2 linked regions of the Homo sapiens genome follow. The protein of the gene in region 2 interacts with the protein of the main gene of each other region in a pairwise test. Each region holds a gene or a part of one and is shown on either strand. Other genes may lie near its edges. The genes, in order: SYNGR2 and SCARA3.

Region 1 (12,616 bases), on a different chromosome or scaffold from region 2:
CTTCGGGTTGGTGACTGCCCACTGGTTGGTGAGGAAGCAGAAACCAACAAACCACAGGAAGGTCCAGAGAGCTGGGGGAGGACGGGTGAAGCGTCAGTTCCATGGAAAGGGAGGGGCTTTCCAGGACTCTGGGAGGGGACGCGGGCAGGTAGGGCAGGGACCTCCCGGGGGAGCCTCCACACTATGGAGGGGAGGACTTGGAAGCCGGGCCGGGAGCCACCTCCAAAGTCCCCCACACTCGGGCCTTGGCAGGGTGGGCCACAGCAGACAGCCTAGGGGACAAAAGGGGCAGAGGCAAAGCCCATCTGCTCGGGTGTGCTGCAGGTCCACTCAGCTTCTAGCTACCCCAGGCAGGGCTGGTGCCATTCAAGCACGGAAAAACACTAGCTGAAAACCCTTTCCTAAAAATGCCCTGGAGGAGTGAGCTGCTCCCTGCCCCTCCCAGAGAGGCCGAGACCCTCCCAGCTGCGGAACCCTAGAGTTAATGCCTCCCCCAAGATCAAATGGAGGTGCCACAGGCAGATACCTGAGAAGAGCAGGTCACCAATGACCAGGTACTTGCGGTCAGTGGCGTTGCTGATCTGGGGGAAATACGCGTCGACCACCAAGAAGAAGGCCGAGGCCAGGAAGGCCAGCACCCCGATGGCACTGCCATAGCGGCAGGCATCCTCGTTGCGGTTGAACACGCAGTACATCTGCTTAGACTCGTGGGCATTGCTGTAGCCCTCACCATAGATGCAGGAGAACACGATCAAGGCGAAGACCTGCCGGGAGGGGAGGACCTGGTAGGGCTGGTGGCCGCCTGAGGGGCACACACAGCGGGGACCCTGATGGGGTGTACAGATGCTGGCCTCTCCCACTACTGCTGTCCCCTTTTGGGTTTTTGTTGTTGTTTGAGATGGAGTCTTGCTCTTGTTGCCCAGGCTGGAGTGCAATAGTGCGATCTCGGCTCACTGCATCCTCTGCCTCCTGGGTTCAAGCAATTCTGCCTCAGCCTCCCTAGTAGCTGGGATTACAGGTGCCCTCCACCACACCCGTATTTTTAGTAGAGATAGGGTTTCACCATGTTGGCCAGGCTGGTCTGGAACTCCTGACCTCAGGTGATCCACCCTCCTCGGCCTCCCAAAGTGCTGGGATTACAGGCATGAGCCACCTCGCCCAGCCTGCTGTCCCCTTTTGGAGGCTGACATCTTAGCCCCTCCAAACTTGTGGAGGTGAGCTGATGAGCAAAGTGCTTCCTGATGCACCCCAGGATGAGAATCTGCAGGCACCAGGGGGCCTGCCCCTGGGAATCCTGGACCGGGGAGGGGTGGGGAATGGGCAGGGACCTCCTAGGCAGGGGCTGCTCCTGCCCCATCGGCCTGCTGCAGGAATCATTCTGCTTAGGTACCTGATGGATGAAGGGCAGTCCTTCCATCCCCAGCCCAACCTCACCTTGAAAGAGGTTTAACCAAGACAGGCCAAGTCACAAAGACTACCCATCCCCCGTCACCTTCAGCCCAAGTCACTTCTACAGCACCCAGCCTCTGCCTGAACACCTTGGTGAAGGTGGACAGGCCCTCTTGGGAAGGCCATGCTGGCGCCCCTGTGTCTTCACCTCCTGGAACCCCTGGAACCCTCCCTGGTTCAGCCTGGCCAGCTGTCTCCACACAAGGACTTGCAGCCTCTGTGGCATCCTGGTCCCTCCCAGTCTGTCTCCCACCCCACAGAGGGCCCTGCATGCACAGGGCACTACAAGGGGACTAACTCAGGCCTGTGGATACAGCTCTGAACTCAGACACCTGGAGGACCCAGGGTGGATGTAGGGGAGCTCCAGCCCCTTGGGAAGAGCCCCATACCACCTCCCTAAACTTGAAGGCCACCACCCACGCCTGCTCCACCTCAGCAGGTGTGGGACAGGTCTGTGAGCATCAGGATCCCTCTGGGATGGCCCCAGGACTCTCCCCTGCCAGTCCTGCCCTGTTGTCCCAGGGAGCTCTCCATAGGGCTCTGGAGCTGGCAGTCACAGGCCCCGCCCCCAGATGGAGATGAAGCCGGATCTCCGGGATGATGGGAGCAGGGTGCCCATCCAGGACTCCTGGCACTGCCATCCCGACCCACTGGGCACCTGATTCTTGGACACAGCCCAGGACAGAGGCGATCAGATCCCACAGCCTGGCTGGGAGCTGGTGTGGGCGCCCTGGAGGACCTCAGAAGCTCCAGGCCCAGGCATGGTCTGGGCACAGCAGGCCCACCTCTGCCTGCCCCCTCATGCCACCCCCTCCAGCTTTCAGGGCTGGCTGTCCAAGAACAGGCCCCCTCCCCGCCACACACACACACACACAAAACCTGGTTTTGGAGGTATTGCCCACCTTACAGGGAGGGGGTACATCTTGGGGTCCCTCAACTTCGGGTGGGAAGGCGGACCCGTGGCCTGCCCCGAGTGGGAAGGACACCCTGTTTCCGGGCGTTGGGTCGCCCCCCGCCCCCTCCCTTACCCCACGTGGCTTCGGAAAACCCCGTCCCGGTGAACTCCCCAATCTGGGAGTCGCGGCGTGCGGGCCACCTGTCCGGGAGCCGCCCCCAAACTCCTCCCACTGCCAGCGAGGCAGGGGCCCGCTCCCTGCGGAGATCCGGACACCCCGCGTCGGGGCGCGAGGCTGGGGGTGGGGTGGGTGGCGGGACCCGGGACCGGGAGGGGACAGCGGGACAGACTGTGGAGGGCGGGAAGGCGGGGCCCGGGACGCTGGACGCCGGCCCCGCTCGCCGCCAGGCCCCGGACGCGGCCGCCGCCACCTGTCGCGCTCGTGGGCTAGGGGCCCCGCCGGGCCTGGCGACGGAGAGGGGGTCCCCAGGGTGCCCTCGGCCCGCCCTCCCCGGGCTCACCAAGCACACGGCGCGCGCCACCACCTGCGGCTGCGTCAGGAAGCGCCGCAGGTCGAAGGAGCCGCCCGCCTTGGCCGCGCCGTAGGCCCCGCTCTCCATGTCGCCGTCGCCGCCGCTGCCGCCGCCGCGGAACGCAGAGGAACCTGCCCGGCGCCCCGCCCGACTCCACCCGCCGGGGGCGTGGCCAGGCGCCGCTAGGGACCGAGGGCAAAGTGCGGCCCTCGCGAGCGGCGGGCGAGCCGCGGGACTGCGCTTCTAGAGGCGGGGAGGGGCTGTGGCCGCGGAGCACCCGGGTCCACCCCACCTCGGGGTTGAGGGGCTAGTCTCCGGGCCACGCCGGCCGCAGCACGGACCAGAAAGGGTCAGAGAGTCCCCCGGGAAGACGGACGAACTGAGGACCGCTCACCCTCTTTGCCCCTGCCCTCCCACCGCCTCCTCTAGGAAGCCCACCACCTACCAAGAACCCACCCAGGCTCATAAGCAACCCCTCCCCCATCCCACTGAAAAACCCAGGCCACACCCTGGAGCCCCTCCCTGCCTGGCCTGCCACTCTTTCCTCCTCTCTGGGGCTAAGCCTGGGGTAGGGTCAAAGACCCCCTCCCCATTCCTCCTGGTCTGGGCAGAGCCCCAAGGCTGTGAAGGGCAGTGTGGCGTCACACTTAAGATGGTGTGCAAGGCCGGGAGCGGTGGCTCACACCTGTAATCCCAGCACTTTGGGAGGCCGAGGCGGTTGGATCACCTGAGGTCAGGAGTTCGAGACCAGCCTGACCAACATGGAGAAACCCCGTCTCTACTAAAAATACAAAAATTAGCCTGGTGTGGTGGTGCATGCCTGTAATCCCAGCTACTCGGGAGGCTGAGGCAGGAGAATCGCTTGAACCTGGGAGGTGGAGGTTGCGGTGAGCCGAGATTGTGCCATTGCACTCCAGCCTGGGCAACAAGAGCAAAACTCTGTGTCAAAAAAAAAAAAAAAAAAAAAAAAAAAGATGGTGTGCAAGGCCGGGCGCAGTGGCTCACACCTGTAATCCCAGCACTTTGGGAGGCCGAGGCGGTTGGATCACCTGAGGTCAGGAGTTTGAGACCAGCCTGGCCAACATGGTGAAACCCCGTCTCTACTAAAAATACAACAACAACAAAAAAATTAGCTGGGCGTTGTGGTAAGCGCCTGTAATCCCAGCTACTTGGGAGGCTGAGGCAGGATAATTGCTTGAAACCGGTAGGCAGAGGTGGCCGTGTGCTGAGATCGAGCCACTACACCCCAGCCTGGGCAACAGAGCAAGAGTCCATCTCAAAACAAACAAAACAAACAAACAAACAAACAAACAAACAAAACCAAAAACGAAAGTTAGCGAGGCGTGGTGGCAGCTACTAGCAGTCCCAGCTATTCCAGAGGCTGAGGTGGGAGAATTGTCTGAGCCCAGGAGGCGGAGTTTGCAGTGAACCAAGATCACGCCTTTGCACCCCAGCCTGGGTGACAGAGTAAGACCACATATCGGCCGGGCGTGGTGGCTCACGCCTGTAATTCCAGCACTTTGGGAGGCTGAAGCAGGCGGATCACGAGGTCAGGAGATCGAGAACACCCTGGCCAACATGGTGAAACCCCGTCTCCACTAAAAATACAAAAATTAGCTGGGCATGGTGGCGCGTGCCTGTAGTCCCAGCTACTTGGCAGGCTGAGGCAGGAGAATCGCTTGAACCCGGGAGGCGGAGGTTGCAGTGAGCCGAGATTGCACCATTGCGACAGAGCGAGACTCCATCTCAAAAAAAAAAAAAAAGAAAAGACCACATATAAAAAAATATATATATGGCATGCAAACAGAAATGAAGTTTTCAGGGCGACAGGCAGATGGCAAAGTTTAATCCAGTTCCAGTTCAGCCCCCTCTCGCCTCCGTCCCTCTCTACCTCCATCCCAAGAAAAACCGGTACAGAGGGTCTGGTGCAGGGTAGGCTGGGGCAGGCTCTGTGTGTGTTGGAGTGGGGAGCGGAGGTTGTACAGACAGAGGTGTGGGATCACAGGCTGACTGAACCCGGAAGAATTCCAGACCCCCCTTTGCTAGTTGCAGGTGCAGATTAACAACAGCAGGTGTGCCAGGTGGGGCTCACAGTCAACCCAGGTGAGCTGGACCACGTGAGAGTTGAACCATAGGACTGGGCCACCAGGAGGTGGGGTGCCTCTCCAGGGAAGAGGGGAGCAGGTGGGGGGGAGGGGCTGGGCCTTTTCGCAGTGTGCCCCCCTCCCTCTCCCTACACCCAGAGAGATGTGACAGCACCTGAGAGGCGAGGACAGGGCCACACAGACCCCCTTATTTCTGTGACCCTCCTGAAGCCCTCACACCAACAGTGTCTGTGTTTGCTGAAGGCCACCAGCACTCCAAGAATCCCAGCTGGCAGGCTTTTTTCTTTTTTTTAAATAAATGTTTTTGTGTATATTTAAGGTAGACAACCTGATATGATGGGATTCATATAGATAATATAGATAGCACAAAGGTTCCTATAGCGAAGCAAGTTAACATATCCACCATCTCTCATAGTTACCCTTTTTTTTTTTTTTTTTTTTTTGTGGCAAGAGCAGCTAAAACACACTCATTTTGCATGAACTCCAAATACGAACAGTGCACGCTGATGGCCTGCAGTCCTCTGCCGTGCTTGGCTCTCTGGACGGTTCATTCTACATGGCTGCTGCTTTGCGTCCTCTGACCTCCCCATTCCCTATCCTGAACCCCCCAAACTCCTCTTCACTCAGACGGCGGGTGCTCCTGTAGAGCGGCAAGGCAAGGATGGGGCTCTCCAGGGGACCCTGCCAGTCCTCCATCTTCTGGTCACCACCTTGACAAAGCAGTGGAGACTCAAGTCAGGCAGGCTCACCTCCCAGCCATCCCCTCCCGAGGCGTCTGAGAGTGTTCGTTTGTTTTGAGACGGAGTTTTGCTCTTTTTGTCCAGGCTGGAGTGCAATGGCACGATCTCGGCTCACTGCAACCTCCACCTCCTGGGTTCAAGTGATTCTCCTGCCTCAGTCTCCCGAGTAGCTGGGACTACAGGTGCGCACCACCACGCCCGGCTAATTTTGTATTTTTAGTAGAGACGGGGTTTCTTCATGTTGGCCAGGCTGGTCTCGAACTCCTGACCTCAGGTGATTCGCCTGCCTCAGCCTCCCAAAGTGCTGAGATTCCAGGCATGAGCCACTGTGCCCGGCCTGCCTCTGGGAGTTTTATGGTGCCAAGCACATCAGTGCCCCAGCAGAAGAGACATGAGGCTTACTCACCCCACTAAATGAAGGCTGTACCCCATTTTACAGAAGGAAAAACTGAGGCTCGGCGAGGTGACATGGCTCACCCACGAGTCTGGCTTCTGGAAAGAACAGACTTGGTAGAAGTGAGATGGGAAAGTGCCAAGGACAGACTCCTGGTAGAGCCACGTAAGGGCCTGGGCCACGGGCAGAGGATGAGAACCAGGACACGGCAGTGTCTCCCAAACAAAGAGAGATGAGTTCACAGAGGCAGGGCTGGCCACCACCAAAGCCAGACAGGCAGAGCACACAGGCCTGTGGTGCCTGCACTCAGACACTACAAAGGCCTTGGTCACTTTACATGTTAGTAAAGCCATGGCCTTGGAGAGGGGACCCTGGGAGGCTGGGCCCCAGGCTCTTGCCACCACCTCGGAAAGACTGCCCAAGGTGGTTCTCACAGAAGGCAGGAGCTCCTGGTCCACCTTGGTCTCCTGGAGGCATCATCCCTGCAATCCCTGCTCAGACCCCATAAAGAACTTAGGAGACTGCCCTCCCAGAGGCCAGCAGACTGTGTTACAGGGCACCTGGGAGCACTGGTCAGGGTCCGATAACGCCTTGAATGTGTAAGCCTCAGTAGGCACATGGCACACAGTAGGTCCTCATAAACACCTTCGAGTCATGCGTAAGCGGTGATGGCCGCTCTTTGCCCTGGCCACAGCCCTGCCCTGCAAGCCCCACCACCTGAGCTCTGCAGCCAGGGCCCGGTTGGACCTCTCAGGCCATCAGCAGCTCTCCCTCCTCCCTGCATCGAGCACCCATTTCCTACCTGGCCCACGTGGTCCAGCCCAGCATCCTGGAGGTGATGGCCGCAGTGGAGGCAAGGCTGCCAACCAGCACGATGGTGGGTGCCCTGGGCAACCCTCCTGGGAGGGGGCGGAGGCAGCTGGGTTGGGCTTCCTTTAGGCAGGGGCCAGGGTGGGCATGGTTGCCTCCTGTGCCCTCTCTGCTCTCAGCAGTGGCCGGGTAGAGCTGTCCCACTTCCCATCGACCTGTGTCTTGGACACTAGCACCCTCCCGGCACAGAAGCGCCAGCTGCCCCTCTGGAAATCCAAGGGCCCTCTCACCTGGGGGCACCACTGTGAGGGCGCTGTGCTGGACATTGGCGTTGTTTGCAGCCTGGCACCAGAACCAGTCCGATGTCTGGCTCGGCAGGAAGGAGAAGTTGGCAGGCTGCCTGTGGCATGGTCTCTGCTGCAGGTGGACCTGCCCATCCTTCCCGATCAGGCTGTTGGTGATAGGTGGGCTGCCCGAGGACGCCTGGCAGATCATCTCCACCCTGGGGCCTGCCCCTCTGTCCTGCAGAGTGAAGTTGGCCCGCAGCTCAGACACTGGCTCTGGCAGGGTGGGAGAAGGTAGCACAGGCATGGCTGAGCGGTTTTAAACCCCTCCTCCTCAGTAAGTTCTCCTCATTACAAAATGCCTAATGAGCTTAGCTGTGGCTGCCGCCTCCTCCAGGCCGCCTTCTAGAGTTTGCCCTCCACCTTGTGTCTGGGCTGCTGCCCTACCTGCCGTGTGTACCACACAATTTCACATTTGGTTTTTATCTTATTCTTACTTTATTTTGAGACAGGGTCTTGCTCTGTCGCCCAGGCTGGAGTGCAATGGCGCGATCTAGGCTCACTGCAACCTCCGCCTCCCCAGCTCGAGCAATTCTCCCATCTCAGCCTCCCGAGTAGCTAGGACTACAGGTGTGCACCACCACATCCAGCTAATTTTTGTATTTTTTGCAGAGATGGGGTTTCACCATGTTGGCCAGGCTGGTCTCAAACTCCTGGGCTCAAGCAATCTTCTGCCTCAGCCTCCCAAAGTGCTGGGATTTTAGGCGTGAGCCACCGTGCCCGGCCTGGTTTTATTCTTGTGTAGCGTATTTCAGATTGCCAGACTTAGCAAATAAAAATACAGTTAAATTTTCATTTCAGATAAACAATGAATAATCTTTTACTATACGTATGTCCTATGTAAAATTTATCTGGCAACTCTATCATTCAGTCTCGTCTTTTTTACTGAAAGGCAAGCTACTTCAGGACAAAAACTGTCATGTAGAAGATTCTAGAATCCCCCAGGCCTTGAGCCTAATGCTCTAGACATTCTTACTGATGAGTAATCACCACCACACTTGCCACCTACTAAAAGGCTTTCATTTAATAGGTCCCCTGAAGTAGGACCTATTATTATTTTAGAGACAGGGTCTCTGTTGCCCAGGCTAGAGTGCAATGGTGTGATCACCGCTCACTGCAGCCTCCAACTCCTGGGCTCAAATGATCCTCCCACCTCAGCCACCCAAGTAGCTGGGACGACAGGCATGCACCACCATACCTGATTAATTTTTTAAAAAATTGCTATTGGCTGGGTGCAGTGGCTCACGCCTATAATCCCAGCACTTTAGGAGGCCTAGGTAGGTGGATCACTTGAGGTCAGGAGTTTGAGACCAGCCTGGCCAACATGGTGAAACCCCGTGTCTACTAAAAATACAAAAATTAGCCGGCATGGGGGCAAGGGCCTGTAGTCCCAGCTACTCGGGAGGCTGAGGCAGGAGAATCGCTTGAATCTGGGAGGCGGAGGTTGCGGTGAGCCGAGATCGTGCCACTGCAGTTCAGCCTGGGCGACAGAGCAAGACTCCATCTCAAAAAAAGAAAATAATTTTTTTGCAGACACAGAGTATCACTCTGTGGTCCAGGCTGGTCTCAAACTCTTGGCTTCAAAGGATTCTCCCACCTTGGCCTCCCAAAATGCTGGGAATACAGGTGTGAGCCACCTCACTGGCCTCTGTTATTATTTTCCTTTTGCAGATAAAGCAGTTGAAGCTCAGCGGTCCAATGAGTTGTTCAAGACCCCAGCCAGTAAGTGTAGGGATTTGAACCTTGGACCCGTTGGGCTGCAGATCCTGGGCTCATCTCCCCTAGGCTGTCTTTTCCTGGTGTTCTTAGGGTGCGGGCCAAAGGATGAATGGGGCGATTCCTTGTCCCACCCTAAGTCGGGCAACACTTCCTGGTTCCCATACCCCATAGCTCCCACCAAGAAGGTTACCTGAGTTACTATCAGGATGGAAACAGGAAGAAGGCAGGGTTTGGAGCTGGACAGAGTGGGGTTTGAAAGCAGCCTTGGCCACTTGCCAGCCATGTGGCCTGGGGCGACTTTTTTTTTTTTTTTTTTTTGAGATAGTCTTACGCTGTCACCCAGGCTGGCATGCAGCAGCACGACCTTGGCTCACTGCAACCTTCATCTCCTGGGTTCAAGTGACTCTCTTGCCTCAGCCTCCCCAGTAGCTGGGATTATAGGTGCCCACCACCACACCCAGCTAATTTTTGTATTTTTAGTAGAGATGGGGTTTCACTACGTTGGCCAGACTGGTCTCAAACTCCTGAGCTCAAGTGATCCTCCCGCCTGGGCCTCCCAAAATGCTGGGCTTATAGGCGTGAGCCACCACACCCAGCCCCTGGGGCAACTTTCTTAACTCCCCAGAGTTTTAGCTTACATAGCTATAGACCCAGAGGCTCAGACCCCACCCCTGACACTGCTGTGAAGATCAAGCGAAGTAATGCACAAAACGTGCCTAACTTTTTTTTCGTTTCTTTTTCTTTTTTTTTTTTTTGGAGACGCTCTGTTACCCAGGCTGGAGTACAGTGGCGCAATCTTGGCTCACTGCAACCTCTGCCTCCCGGGTTCAAGCGATTCTCCTGCCTCAGCCTCCTGAGTAGCTGGAACTACAGGTGCACCCCGCCACGCCCAGCTAATCTTTGTAATTTTAGTAGGAACAGGGTTTCGCCATGTTGCCCAGGCTGGTATCGAACTCCTGGGCTCAAGCGATCAGCCTGTCTCGGCCTCCCACAGTGCTGGGATTTGCGCCCAGACAAACGTGCCTAGTTTATCACCTTGAGGTCCGAGCTGACAACTGGGGCCCAGTCATTTCTGCCACCATCGGGCTCTTTCCCTCTGTGCCCTCAGGCCCCTGCCAGGAGACTGTGCCCTCAGGGCCCCAGCCAGGGACAGCAAGTCCTGATTAAAGGCCCCAAGGGACTGAGAATGGCCTTGGAGGTGGCAGCCTGTCCTTGTCCACACCCTCACACCCTGGCTCTCTCTAACCCCAGCAAGGTTCACAATCCCCACTCCCAGAGCTCCCCATTGATCTGCACCCCACCTGCCTCCTCAGCCCTGTGCCCCCCACCGCACTCACTGGACCACAGCTCCCAGTGCATCTGTAGCCTGGCACTGTCCACATGGGCACCTGAGGTGGAGGACGCCCAGCAGAAGTAGGTGAGCAGGTCTGGACTGGACTTGAGTGTGACGTTGAGGTTGAAGGAGGCCGGCTCGTGGGTCTTCACCACCTTCTTGGCCACCTTGATGTTCTTGGTTCCACAGAGGGAATAGGTGATGGGCGGTGGTGGCTGGGGTGCACAGCAGGTTATGAGCACCCAGCGGCCTTTGGGGAAAACTTCCAGGACTTTGTAGGCAATGGAGACCACAGGGGTAATTTCTGGGAGATGAAAAGGTCCAAGGAGGAAGAAAGAAACCGACATTGATCAAGCACCTTAAGAAGGTACTGGTTTGGCCAGGCTCGGTGGCAAACACCTGTAATCCCAGTGTTTGGGAGGTCCAGGTGGACGGATCACTTGAGGTCAGGAGTTCAAAACCAGTGTAGCCAACATGGTGAAAGTCTGTCTCTACTAAAATACAAAAATTAGCCGGGCGTGGTGGTGCCCACCTGTAATCCCTGCTACTCGGGAAGCTAAGGCAGGAGAATCTCTTGAACCAGGAAGGCGGAGGTGGCAGGTGGCAGTGAGCCGAGATCACACCACTGCACTCCAGCCTGGGCGACAGAGGGAGACTCAGGAAAAAAAGAAAAAGGATGCTGGGTTTAGCATGTTCTCTCTCTCTCTCTCTTTTTTTTTTTTTTAGATGGAGTCTTGCTCTGTCACCCAGGCTGGAGTGCAGTGGCGCGATCTCTGCTCACCACAACCTTCGCCTCCTGAGTTCAAGTGATTCTCCTGCTTCAGCCTCCCGAATAGCTGGGACTGCAGGCGCGTGCCACCACGCCTGGCTAATTTTTGTATTTTTAGTAGAGACAGGGTTTCACCATGTTGGTCAGGCTGGTCTCAAACTCCTGACCTCGTGATCCACCCGCCTTGGCCTCCCAAAGTGCTGGGATTACAGGCGTGAGCCACCGCGCCCGGCTGCAATTTACTTCTATAACAAACCTGCACATGTACCCCTGAACCTAAAAATTACAAATAAATAAGTGAAACCAGTAGACCTCAGAGTAAAGAAAAAAGAAAGAAAGAAAATACTGATTTAGTGGTTCCTCAAAAAGTTAAACAGACTTACCATATGACTCAACAATTCCAGGCCTAGACATACACCAAATAATAGAAAACAGGGACTCAAACAGATACCTGTACACACACGCTCATGGCAGCGTGATTCACCACAGCCAAATGGTGGAAACGGCCCAAATATCTATCAATGGACGAATGGGTAAATAGAATGTGGTTGATCCATATAAGGAATATTACTCAGCCTTAGAAAGAAATGAGCACAGATGCAGGCTGCAACAGGGATGAGCCGTAACAACATTCCACTAAACAAAAAGGCAGACGCAAAGGGCAACGGTTGCATGATTCCATGTGTGTGCAAAGTTCAGAACAGGAGAACCCACAGAGACAGAAAGCAGATTGGTGGTTACTGGGGCCCAGGGGAGGGGGAAATGGGGAGTAACTGCCTAATAGATACGGGGTTTCCTTTTGGGGTGATGAAAATCTCTCGGAACTAGATAGCGGTGGTGGTTGAGCAACACTATGGATGCACTAAATGCTGCTGAATTATCACTTTTTTTTTTTTTTGAGACAGAGTCTTGCACTGTCGCCTCCCGTGTTCAAGAGATTCTCGTGCCTCAGCCTCCAGAGTAGCTGGGATTACAGGCACCCACCACTACGCCTGGCTAATTTTTGTATTTTTAGTAGACATGGGGTTTCATCATGTTGGCCAGACTGGTCTTGAACTCGAGACCTCAGGTGGTCTGGCCACCTCAGCCTCCCAAAGTGCTGGGATTACAGATGTGAGCCACTGCGCCCGGCCCACTTTTATTTATTTATTTAAAGACAGAGTCTTGCTCTGTCGTCCAGAATGGAGTGCAGTAGCACGATCTCAGCTCACTGCAACCTCCACCTCCTGGGTTCAAGCGATTCTCCTGTCTCAGCCTACCATGTAGTGGGGACTCCAGGCATGCACCACCATGCCCAGCTAATTTTTGTATTTTTAGTAGAGACGGGGTTTTTTCTTTTCCTTTTTTTTTTAAATCATATTAAACTTGTAGTTTTATTCAGGTTTGATTTTAACAAATGTGTCGGGGAGAGAGCCTGCAGGGAAGGGTAAAGCCCGTGGGGGCAGGGCTCTCCCAGATGCCTGAGGAGGGGGCAGGTCCCCTCCCCTCTCCTCCTCTTCCCTCCCCATCTGAAGGGGTTTGGGGA
Region 2 (12,343 bases):
TCTATCTATCTATCCATTTCTATCATCCCTATCATCTATCTCTATACACTATTGATTCTGTTTCTCTGGATCAATCAATCAATCAATCATCTATATATCCATCTATCTATACACTATTTATTCTGTTTCTCTGGATCTATCTACCTATCTATCTATCATCTCTATACACTATTGATTCTGTTTCTCTGGGTCTATCTCTCTATATATATATACACTATTGATTCTATTTCTGTGGATCTCTCTCTGTCATACACTATTGATTCTGTTTCTGTGGATCTCTCTGTCTCTCTCTCTCTCTCATACACTATTGATTCTGTTTCTCTGGAGAACCCTGATAAATAAGGAAGACATGAGGGGGATGAGAGGAGAAGAGTTTTTCAGAGTGACAGCCTCCAGGGGCAGAGGGTTGGGTGGTTGGGAGCATTAATGAGGGGGTGGGAAGGGAGTAAAAAAGAGGAGACAGTTTTCAAAAGACAAGATCTGCTTATTTCTCTATTAGGACTTGGTTAAATAAATCTAAATACAAAAATCCAGATTTGTATAATAGGCAAAGTTAGAAGCCATAATACCTTTACAAAAGAGGTTTGCAAGGATGTTCTTTTCCTTTTTTCTTTTCTCTCTCTCTCTCTTTTTTTTTTTTTTTTTTTTTTTTTTTTTAGATAAGGACTTACTCTGTCTCCCAGGCTGCAGTGCAGTGGTGCAATCATAGCTCACTGTAGCCTCGAACTCCTGGGCTCAAGTGATCCTTCTGCCTCAGCTTCCCAAGCAGCTAGGAGTATAGGTACACACCACCATGCCTGGCTAATGCAAGGACATTTCTTAAAGCTGCCGACTGCTGTAGGCATTTGCTATAGGATTGTGTTAGCCCACTAGTACTTTGCCTAAAACCAGGTACTTCTGTGTCCAGCAAGATCACCAAGCCTCAGTGGAAGCTTTGTAGCAGCCCTACCTGGACCCAGCTCTTACCTCGTAGGATGGTGACATTGCGAAGGATTTCTCCATGCTGTGTGTCCACTGCCTTCATCTCCTCCACGATCATGGAGAGGTTCCGGACGTTGAGGTCCAGCCGGGCACTGAGCAGGCTGAAGCGCTCCCGGAGCAGGTCTGTGGTGCCCAGCATGATGGAGACAGACTTGTTCAGGTAGTAGAGCTCCTCGGCATGGGTGTGGAAGCCCAGCGTGCAGGAGAGCCGCACGTCATCCAGGTACTTGAGCATGCTGTGCACGTGGTTGTCGGTGGCATTGATGTTGGTGAAGATGGTGCCAATTTCAATCTCGTGAGAAGCCATGCGTCCTTCCAGAGACTCAAACCTCTCCACAGTGCGGTTCTGGGCGTAGTGGGTATGGTACTGAAGATCATGCATGTTCTCTTCGTGGTCATCCAGGAAGGACGAGATGTTATCCAGCTGCAGCTGCAAGCCCATGACCTGGAGTACCAGGTCGTGCATGCTCTCTGAGTTCTGGCTGATGCGCTGTGAGGAGGCCCCCAGGGTGGCCTGGATGTTCTTGACCGCCTCTCCAGTCTTGGTGGAGGTGGTGCGCAGGCCGCTGAAGAGCCGTGTGTAGTTCTGCCAGTCGGTGACAATCTTCTGGAGGGTCAGGGTCTCCTCGTCTGTCTTCCGCTGGATCCCGTGGATCCACTCGGAAGTCTGCCCCACGGTGAAGTTGATCTGGTGCACTGCAGCCTTGACATCGTAGCACTCCTGGGTGAGGTCCTTCAGAGAGAGGTCCAGGCCAGCTGTGGTGGCCTGCCAGCCTCTCACCTGGGCCAGGAAGAGCCCCAGAGACTGGTTAACCTGGTGGATGGAGAAGGAGCAACTGCCCATCTCCTGGGAGATTTGTCTGCTGGTGGTGGAGAGCACCTCCTGGGCCTGTAAGGTCTGGTCCAGCTGCACCTCCTGGGCCAGAAGCAGCTTCTGAATTCCCTCCAGCTCCTCCTGCAGTTTTCGGATCTCTGGCCCCAGCTGCCCAGCTTCATGGCAGAAAGAGCAGTTGTTCAGGGCTTTCGGATCTTTAGGGGAAAGGGATAACAGTTTGAGTTGCTGAAGGGCCAGGGTACGACGCTTCCTCTTTAAATTAAATATTTCAGAGCATAAGAAATTGGTTAGTAGCTTCCCAAACCAACTTCCTTCCAGAAGTCCTGTTATGAATTCCTTCTTGAAAAAGCCTTGCCACCTCTATGGAATCTCATTTTTACCGACTTTCTTGACTCTGATCTGAAATGTAGCATTTAGGATGTTTCCTCCTTCTCACCACCAAATTCTCAAGAATGTATCTTCATAATTTTTCTTAGGTGGCCAGGAACTTCCCATTTAAACTTTATTTAAAAATTTCTCCCAGTATTTTTATATCTGTTATCTTATTCAATCCTCTCAAAATAATACATTCAATACAATCAAGAGGAACGAGGTGCAGAGAAGTGGCTTGGTAAATAGCCACGTATATTGGTGCCAGACCAGAACCTTCTATTTGCGTCAGATAAGACCACTCTAAACCCTTCTATCATTGCTCCTTCTGTCTCATTCTCTCTTAGATTGTTCCAGGTTAAAGCAGGGGATAAAGAACATCAAGAATTGTGGCATGACCTAAGCAAATTAACAGAAGAACAGAAAACCAAAGACCACATGCTCTCACTTATAAGTGGGAGCAAGACTGAATACATGTAGATGCTGGGTGCAGTGGCTCACGCCTGTAATCCCAGCACTTTGGGAGGCAGAGGCGGGCGGATCACGAGGTCAGGAGATCGAGACCATCCTGGCTAACACAGTGAAACCCCATCTCTACTAAAAATACAAAAAATTAGCCGGGCATGCTGGCTGCCGCCTGTAGTCCCAGATACTTGGGAGGCTGAGGCAGGAGAATGGCACGAACCCAGGAGGTGGAGCTTGCAGTGAGCCGAGATCACACCACTGCACTCCAGCCTGGGTGACAGAGTGAGACTCCGTCTCAAAAAAAAAAAAAAAAAAGGTTGAATACATGTAGACATAAAGATGGCAACAATAGACTTCAGTGCATACTAGATGGGAGAGGAGGGAGGGGGTTATGGGCTGAAAAACCACCTATTGGGTACCTGGGCTCACTACCTGGGTGACAGGATCATTTCTACCCCCCCAAACCTCAGTGTCACGCAATATAACCAAGTAACAAACCTGCACATGTGTCCCTTAATCTATAACAACAAAAGTTAAAATTATGGAAATAGATAAATAGATGGCACATATTAAAAAAAAAGAAAAAAGAAAAGAATCGTGGCACAGCTTAAGGCAATGATGAGGAAAGGGTTGACCTGGCAGGAGGTTTTGCAAGGTCTTGAAACTCTCATCATTTCAGATGCATGAGGCTATTTTGGGAATGGACTATCTTTGGCTTCCTTCTCTGCCTGTAGACTCTGGCTAGATCTGTGGTCCACCCAGAATCCCCTGCTCCAGTCCTGGGAGTATCCCAGGGTAGCAGCCCTCCTCTAATGGATGGAGATCCGGCTGGGGAGGGAGCAGGGAGCTGGGGATAGCCTCTGTGCCTAGAAGGCTGGTGAAGGTTGCTTGGTGCTGGGGCACTGTAGCGTGGGGAGGGCACCCCTGCCCCACCCTGAAGATCACTGCATCACAGTCATCAGCCCATCTACTTACCCAGGCCCTGGAGATTTTTCTGCATTAACACAAGCTTCTTGTCATAAATAGACTGGGTCAAGGAGATGTCTTCGGAGAGAGAGTCCACTTTTCTGAAAACTGTAGGGAAAACAGATGAGAAGCTGGGGCAGGGTCTAAGCTCAGAGAAACAGCAGTCATTCCTTGAGAAGGCATCTTTATCAGCTCCTCTGCAACCAAAACCTTTCACCCTTCTTCTCTCAGGCTTCTTCATGGCGGTTAGGGAAGATACTTCTTATGGCCAGAGTTTGCCACAAGGCCCTTTAGAAACAGAATAACTCACCCCACACCCCACATGTTAGAAATAGGACCTGATCACAGAATGGAACAGGGAAAATTCAGAAAAAAAATTAAAAAAAAATTATTCTTATTCCTACCACCCAAAGGTTGCTGCCATCAGTGTCTTCATGGATTTCTTCTAGTCTTGTCTACATTGATAACCATTCTTCAGCTACATAGATATATACAGTGTTCCCCTCTTACCTGCAGGGGATACATTCCAAGACCCCCAGTGGATGCCTGAAACCTCAGTGTATGGAACCCTAAATATGCTATGTGTTTTCCTATACATACGTACTTAAGATAAAGTTTAATGTATAAATTAGGCCTAGTAAGAGACTAACAACAGCTAATAATAAAATAGAACTATTAGAACAGTATGCTATAATAAAAGTTATGTAAATATGGTCTCTTTGTATCTGAGAATATCTTATTGTACCATACTCATCCTTCTTCTTGTGCTGACATGAGATGACACCATGCCTACGTGACGAGATGCAGTGGGGTGAATGACATAGGCATTGTGACTTAGTATTGGGCTACTACTGACCTTGACCATATGTCAGAAGGGGGATCATCAAGCCATGATGTTGCCGATTGACCTAGGGTAACTGAAACTGCGGATAAACGGGGACTACTGTACTTTCTTAGGCAACAAAAGCAAAACTGGGATGTTCTGAACATCTCATCTGTTTTCTTTGATGCTGCTTTATCAGTATCATGTCACGGACATTTTTCCATCCAGGGTTAAATCACTTTAAAATCACTACTTTTGGTATCTGCATGGCACTCTATATAAATAATACAGCAATTATGTAAGAATCTCCTACTGTTGAGGACACTTAAAGTACCTCTTCTTCTGAGCTCATAAATAAAACTTGATATATAAATATAAGTAATGCTTAATTCTAGAAATAATCCTTATATATGATGGTTATGTGTATATGATAATTCTCTTGGGATAAATTGCTTAAAATAGAATTATGGGACCTAGGGTATTAACATTTTTGAAGTCCTTGATACAAGCTGCCAAACTGCTGCCCAGAAAAGATTACACCACTTTATACCCCACGGGCAGCCTTGCACTCTACTAAGGGGGCCATGTTGGCCAGTGGTTAGAGCACGTCTTGGCAGCAGCAGGACGCCTGGCTTTTTCCAGCGGGTGCCTGAATGGGCCTGGTAGTGAGGGAGGGCATGGGTTGTTCTGAGGTTCAGCAAGATGCTTCCCACAGATCCTCTTAAGGTCAAGTACAAGGGGAAAGAATTAGCACCACCAAGAGCACTGAGTAACACAGCTTCTAGTCCTAGTTTACATCACATTTGTTGGGTGACTTTGGGCAAGTCAGTTACCCTTTCTTGAGCTCAGTTCAATCATATGTAAAATGAAAATGTGGAGCTCGATGACTCTAAGGCTCTCATCAGCACCAAAATTCTATGCTTTCAAATTATTTGGAATCTCCAGGCTCCAGTTAATATTGTACATCTCAGAGCTGTCAGTAGATTTACTTAATTAGTAACAGCAACATGTTGAGAGAGTTTGGGAATAAGCACATGCTGTTACATGAGACAAGCACTGTACAGTTTACAATAGTTATGATTCCATTTGAGCCTCCCTACAATTAAGATTTCATGCATAGATGAACAAAGACACAAAGAGACTGAGTGACTTTGATTCCTATTCCTATGCTTCATTAATTCTACTTCCAAGCCAACAGCCGAGGCTCACTCCACTCCATATAATTCATTCACCTGTTCATTTCTTTTTTCTTTTTTTCTTTTTCTTTTTTTTTTTTTGTGAGACAGTCTTGCTCTGTCACCCAGGCTGGAGTGCAGCAGTGTGATCATGGTTCACTGCAGCCTCAATCTTCTGGGCTCAAGTGATCATCCCACTTCAGCCTCGTAAGTAGCCAGGACTACTGGCATGTGCCGCCAGGACTACTGGCATGTGCCACCATGCCCAGTTAATTTTCAATTTTTTTTTTAATTGAAATGAGTTGGGGTCTCACTATGTTTCCCAGGCTGGCCTCAAACTCCTGAGCTCAAGTGATCCTTCCACCTTGGCCTCCCAAGGTGTTGGGGTTACAGACATGAGCCACTGCACCTGGCCTTGCTTATTTCTTCATTGTGCATCTCAGGCTTAATAATTATATATTTGCTTTTTAAGCCATTTTTCCTCACTTTTTAGACATGATTTTTCTTCATCCTTATAAAATTATGTTTTATGTAGACAATATGGCAAATAGTACATATACATCACTTATAAATAAATAGGTATATTTTGGGGCTGTGACGCTAACAATTTTTTCTTTTCTAACATTTAATTTAAAAATTTTTCAAACAAAAGAATAGAAGGACTTGTACAGTGAAGACCTATATGCCTATTGCCTAGATTCTACAAGTAGCATTTTTCTGTATTTATTTTATATTCATCCATCTCTTTCACCCATTCATCAATCCATGTAAATTTTTGAATGCATTTTAAATGAATTTTTTACTGATGGGATGCACGGTCAAAAAAGTTTAGGGATCACTGCTCTAGACCAGGGGTGTTGCAAATTATGGCCTGCAGGTGAAATCCAGCCTAATGCCTGATTTACAGGAGTTGCCACCCCCATTCATTTACAGACTGCTTGTGGCTGCTTTTGCTCTGTGACGAGTTTGGTTGTGACAAAGATTGTATGTAACCTGAAAAGCCTAAAATATTTACTATGTAGCCTTTTACAGAAAAAAATGGCCATAATCAGCTCTAGATTATAAGCTCCATGAAGGCAGGGTCTGTGTTTTACTAAGCAGTATACTGCCCAGTATAGAATATAGTTCTTGGTCCCCAGTATGCTCTTGATTTAGAAAAAAAAACTTGATTAAAATGAATAGAGTTGGTTTGTAATGTCTGCTGACTGATTTTCCCAACCCTCTGGACTTTGGTCACAGTTCTGGTTGTAAAGCATTGACCAGTCTATCCACAGACTCACACATACACCATACACACACACACACACACACACACACACACGCTTTACAAATCTATAATCATTCTTTCAACAAATATTATTGGGCACCTGCCATTTAGGCCAAGATGGTGCCAACACTGTTCTAGGGACTTGGGATACCCAAGCTGGAGGCAAAAACAAAAAAGGAAACCCAAAGGTCTCCCGTGGTTCACAAACACACACTCCTCACCCAGGTTGTTCTGATCCTCTGTCCATTCACTCTGGATCTTGGTGCAAATCCTGTCCCCTTCCCAGGTCTGTACCCTCCCGTGAGGAATGGGGCCAGCCTCCCGCTCCAGCCTGCCAGGCTGACTCATGGATGTTATGCACATGACAGCGTCTCACATTCTGTCATCCTCTCTGAAACTCTTCGGTGCCTGCGCTCTTCTCTGGGCCTGATCCTGTGGCTCTTGGAGCTTTGATAATGGCCCCAGGTGCCTTGAGTGCTGTGAGCAGAGGCCCTAAAAGGGGTGACCAGAAATCTTGACAAGTTCTCTGACAGCAAGTTTGTGGCCTCTGATAGGCAGACCGTGGCTCCTTTCCTCCTCTGGCCTGGGATTTTTGCCACTTTCTGAAATGCCAAACCTTGTGAATTGATTTAGCAGACACAGGTGGTGATGGGCTTGGGAAGTTCTGAAATCCTTGGTTCTTAAATCTAGCTGCGGACTGGAATCCCCTGAAGGGATTTACAAATGACTAAGGCCTGGGTCCTACCCAGAGATGATGATTTAATTCATCTGGAGTGAGTGGAGGGGGTACTCTGGCACTAGTATTTTTAAATGCTTTCCAAGGGATTCCAGTATCCCCTGACAAGAGGGAAGAACCATGCCCCTTGATGGTGAAATGTAATTGACACAACTCAGTGTTCCCAGTGCCTGGCACAGAGCAGGCTCCCGGCTTTTGTTGGATTAATTAATGCCTTCGGATTACTGGAAGACGACTTGTGTCTATTCAAATCATTAGTATGCTGGCCTCTTGCCTTCAAGCTAAGAAGGCTGGTTACCGAATATCTCCAGCCAGGGCCAGGACGAGGGGCCTCTCCTTAGGGATGTGCTCAGGCTCAGGGTCTGCATGAGAGCAGGGGGCCCCCCTCGGAGCCTCGACTGCCTCTCCCTACTCCTGGCCTTGTTTCTAAAATCCAGTAGATTGGAACAAACAAGCCTACCAGAGCCCGGATTTTCAAAGTTTGAAGCTAAGAGTGGAATGGGATTGCACTCTTAGCACTCTTAGTGGAATGGGATTACAAACATCAAATTTGTTGTAACAAGTTTACCACAATCTGTCAGCATCTGGAAGGCAGAAGTGACTTGCCTCTGGCTGTGTGCTGTGACCTAGGTCAACTACTACAAACCCTAATGTGTATGAGAAGAACCAAACCTCAGATCCCTGGGTCTCACCTGCAGGACCCCCCAGATTCCTTGGTCTCAGCAGGTCTGGCTGAGGGAGACCCAGGAATTTGCATTTTAACAAATACTGGAGGTGAAATTGCTGCAGGTAGGCATCCAGCCTCACTTTTAGAAACACACAGACCATAAAAGGGGGCTTAGAAGTCACTCAATCCAGTGATCTCAACCCTGGGTGAACAACAGAATCATCAGGAGAGTTGAAAGATACCGAATTAATTCCACGATCGGGGTGGGGCCTAGACATCGACATTCTTTAAAGCTCCAAGATGGCTGTAACATGGAGCTGAAACTGAGAAGCACTGACCTGGTCGTATCATCTCATTACACCAATGGGAAAGAAGGGGTCCCCAGAGGCAGGTGCCTTCCTTAAGGCCACAGATCTTGTCAGTTGCCAGTGTCTGCAGTTTGCATTAGGCATAGAGATCCCCTAGCCAGGAAGATGCTGGCTCTGGGCCCTGGGATACAGATGTCAAGTGTTTGTCTTTGCAGGGGAACTTTTGGTGCTGGATCCCTGATCAGACACCCCCCTGCAGCCCGGGGTGGGAAAGCCCCGGACTCACCCAGAGAGGCCAACACAGCCACGGCCACCAGGAGCAGGGCCAGGAAGAGGTAAAGAATCCGCACCGATGTGTGCAAAGATAGGTTCTTCTGGCAGCGGCTGCAGCGGGGCCCTGGCCGGCCTGTGGGGGACACAAGGAGGACAATGGCTTAGGCCAGGGGCCCAGGTTGGAGCTGAAGGGTCAGTTCCATGTTCCTGCTCTGGTCTGTCTCATCACATTCAAACCAGGCTCAGAAGGGGAGCTGTTCTCGACCCTCATTCTCTACCTGTCCTACCTCCTTTCTCTAGGTGCTGGTGCTTTCTGGAATGCAGGAGACCGAGTCAGGACTTCAAAGAACAGCCCCCAGCACTACCATCATCCTCTCTCCATGGTGTCTTCATTCGGCCCATGGGGAGGGGAAACACCTCTTCCCTCTCCATTGGTCCTACTGAGGACCCACAGGATGAGCAGCCAGCCTGAGGCCCCACTGAGTGACCAACTTGTCTGGGCTTGCCCAGGATCTTCTGGGTTTTAGCACTGAAAGTCTCCCATCACAGGAGCTCCTCAGCATGGTGCCAATCATCCTGGTTTGCTAAGATTGTCTGGGTTTTAAAACTGAAAGCCTGCCGGGTACAGTAGCTCATGCCTGTAATCCCAGCACTTGAGGAGGCTGAGGCAGGGGGATCACTTGAGCCCAGGAGTTTGAGGCCAGCCAAGGCAACATAGCAAGATCCCATCTCTATTTTAAAAAAGAAAAAAGAAAATGAAAAGCCCCACACCCTGGGAATCCCCTCAGTCCCTGGCAAACCAGAATGTTGGTTACCAGTCCCCAAACTTTTCAGGGAACCAGAAGTTCTCCTGGAAACCAAACAAATAGTCATGGTCCACCAGTTGAATTGTTGGCATGGAGGAAAGAGGGAACCAGATGGTCCTGAATACACAGACAGGTGGCCAACACCCAGTGGGAATGCAGTGATGGCCCAGCTGCGAATTCCTAAGGTGAACTCACCTTTAGCCACACATTCTGACTACTAGGACGTTTAAAAATCCTGATGCCCAGATCACACTCCAGGCCAAATAGGAATTTCCAAGGGTTGGTCTCATGCATCCATGGGTGATTGCAATGAAGAGCCAAGGTTGAGAACAACTGCTCTACTCTACACCAAAGTCACTGAGACCCCATTCCAAACAGCAGTTCAGGTGGCATGGGACACAATGAAGGGGACAGTTCCAGGCCAGCTAGAAGACAGGCCCCAGGGACAGGGTATGTAGCTCTGGGAGATGGCAGAAGTCCCTGATGGGTCTCGGGAGGACCCCAGGAGACAGGTGGCACTTGTGTCAAGCTTTGATTTCAGGCCAAGCACAGTGGCTCACACCTGTAACCCCAGCAATTTGGGAGGCTGAGGCGGGCAGATCACTTGAGGCCAGGAGTTTGAGACCAGCCTGGGCAACATAGCAAGACTCTTGTATCTACAAAAAATAAAAAAAATTATCCAGGCATGGTGGTGCGTGCCAACAGTCACAGCTACTTGGGAAGCTGAGGTGGAAGGATCACTCGAGCCCAGGAATTTGAGGCTGCAGTGATCTGTGGTTGCACCACTCATACTAGCCTGGACGACACAGCAAAACCATGTCTTTAAGAAAAAAAAACATTAAACTCCTTTGACTTCACTGGTACTGCACGCCCAGGGCCGTGAACTCTGCCCTTTCACCATCCAGGAAGCAGTGGGGAAAGGACACCCAGGCTTTTGAAACCACCTAAAGAGACAAATCTCTCACTGGCCTGGGGATGGAGACAGGGATCTCTCAGCCCAGAGCGGAGATCAGGGGCAGCCCCAGAGTCCTTACCCTTCTGGGTGCATGGGAAGGTCGGCATGTCCTCGTCGTCACCCGCCAGGTCCTCTTCTGTAACGCACAAGGCATCTCCATCGCCGCCGGCCGACCTCACTATAATGAAGCCAGTGCCGTCAGACCCAAAGCCATCCCAGGCCTCTCCAGCAGCCCCTTTTATTTACCTGTCCCCATATCCCATGCCCACCTCTACCCCTGAGCCAGCTCACTGAGCTCCAGGTGGCCTGATGTAAGCTGCAAAAAGGGAGCGGACATAAGAATCAAGTGGCTGAGGAGCTGGGATGTCCCACCCCTCTGGGTGAGGAGAGCTCCCCATTTTCCACACGCTGGGAAAGACACATGGGCCACCTCAGTGCCTGCTCTCTCTGGAGCTTGCTGAAACCCATGAAGGTGGAGTAAGGAGAAATAAGAGCTGGCTGCTTGCTCTGGCTTAGCGTCCTTCTATTCCCCAATACTTGGTCACCGAAGCAGAATTCCTCTTCTCCAGGGACAAGGCTGAATCTGGCCACAGCATAGTCCCCACCAAGACTCTGCCTCCAGCATAGCCAGGAGGAGGCCAGAGGGAGGAGGAGATGACAGGATGGGCGCAGATCCCTGCTTCACACAATCTCACCTAGGACCCATCAGGGTGTCAAAGGGCCTTGGGCGGAGCAGGTCTCCTTTCAGAGTTTGATTCGGTGCTTATTCTCTGGGACAATATGGTCCCTAACTAAAACCTAGATGATGTATCCCTCACTCAGAAGATTCCTCTAGTTCCCCAGACACCCTTCACCTCCCACTCCCTGTAAGTAAGACCTGGCCTTTTCTTCCCTTTCTCCTTCCTTCCATCCTTCCTTCCCTACTTTCCTCCCTCCTTTCCTTACCTCTTTCCTTCCCTTTCTCCTTTCCTTTCCTTTCCTTCATTCCTTCCTTCCTTTCCTTCCTTCCCTACTTTCCTCCCTCCTTTCCTTCTCTCTCCCTCCCTCCCTCCTTTCTCTCTTTCTCTCTCCTCCCTCTCCCTCTCTCTTTATCTCTTTCTTTGCCGTTTTGTTGGGTCCTTAAGGATTCCCTGCTTTCTTTCACCTTTAGCTATGCACTTAGCAGTATGTCTGTAGTTTATTTAATGTCTACATTTTATAGCCCGAGAATATTTTAAGCTGGTAATGCTAGAAGTAGAAGCTTCAAGTTTTCCTTTTTTCCTTTTTTTTTTCTTTTGAGACAAAGTCTCACTGTGTCGCCCAGGCTGGATTGCAGTGGTGCTATCTCGGCTCACTGCAAGCTCTGCCACCTGGGTTCACGCCATTCTCCTGCCTCAGCCTCCCGAGTAGCTGGGACTACAGGTGCCCGCCACCACGCCCGGCTAATTTTTTGTATTTTTAGTAGAAACGAGGTTTCACCATGTTAGCCAGGATGGTCTCCATCTCCTGACCGTGATCCACCCACCTTGGCCTCCCAAAGTGCTGGGATTACAGGCGTGAGCCACTGCGCCCTGCCTCCTTTTTGTTTTTAATGCAATAAAGTGCTGGGTTTTGCCTCAAGGCAATCTTCACAACATCTTATAAACTTTACAGTCCAGAGAGTCACATTTATAGACAAAAAGACTGAGGTTCAGGGAAGTGAAGAATGTTGCTTAGCAGCCCACAGAATAGAAGTGGT

Evidence for each region.
Region 1: the proteins of SCARA3 (region 2) and SYNGR2 interact in binary tests that used the Homo sapiens proteins (3 or more experiments, as listed by UniProt).

The regions. Positions count from the first base shown.
Region 1 is NC_000017.11:78,158,965-78,171,580, reverse strand, and holds the start of SYNGR2 (synaptogyrin-2), read right to left. Parts: upstream 3,001-12,616; 5' UTR 2,965-3,000; coding exon 2,866-2,964; intron 765-2,865; coding exon 527-764; intron 72-526; coding exon 1-71. Other genes in the region: C17orf99 (protein IL-40), read right to left, coding at 6,915-7,486, 10,327-10,626. UniProt on the Homo sapiens protein: May play a role in regulated exocytosis. In neuronal cells, modulates the localization of synaptophysin/SYP into synaptic-like microvesicles and may therefore play a role in the formation and/or the maturation of this vesicles.
Region 2 is NC_000008.11:27,648,163-27,660,505, reverse strand, and holds part of SCARA3 (scavenger receptor class A member 3), read right to left. Parts: intron 10,805-12,343; coding exon 10,706-10,804; intron 8,999-10,705; coding exon 8,879-8,998; intron 3,725-8,878; coding exon 3,626-3,724; intron 2,011-3,625; coding exon 967-2,010; intron 1-966. UniProt on the Homo sapiens protein: Seems to protect cells by scavenging oxidative molecules or harmful products of oxidation.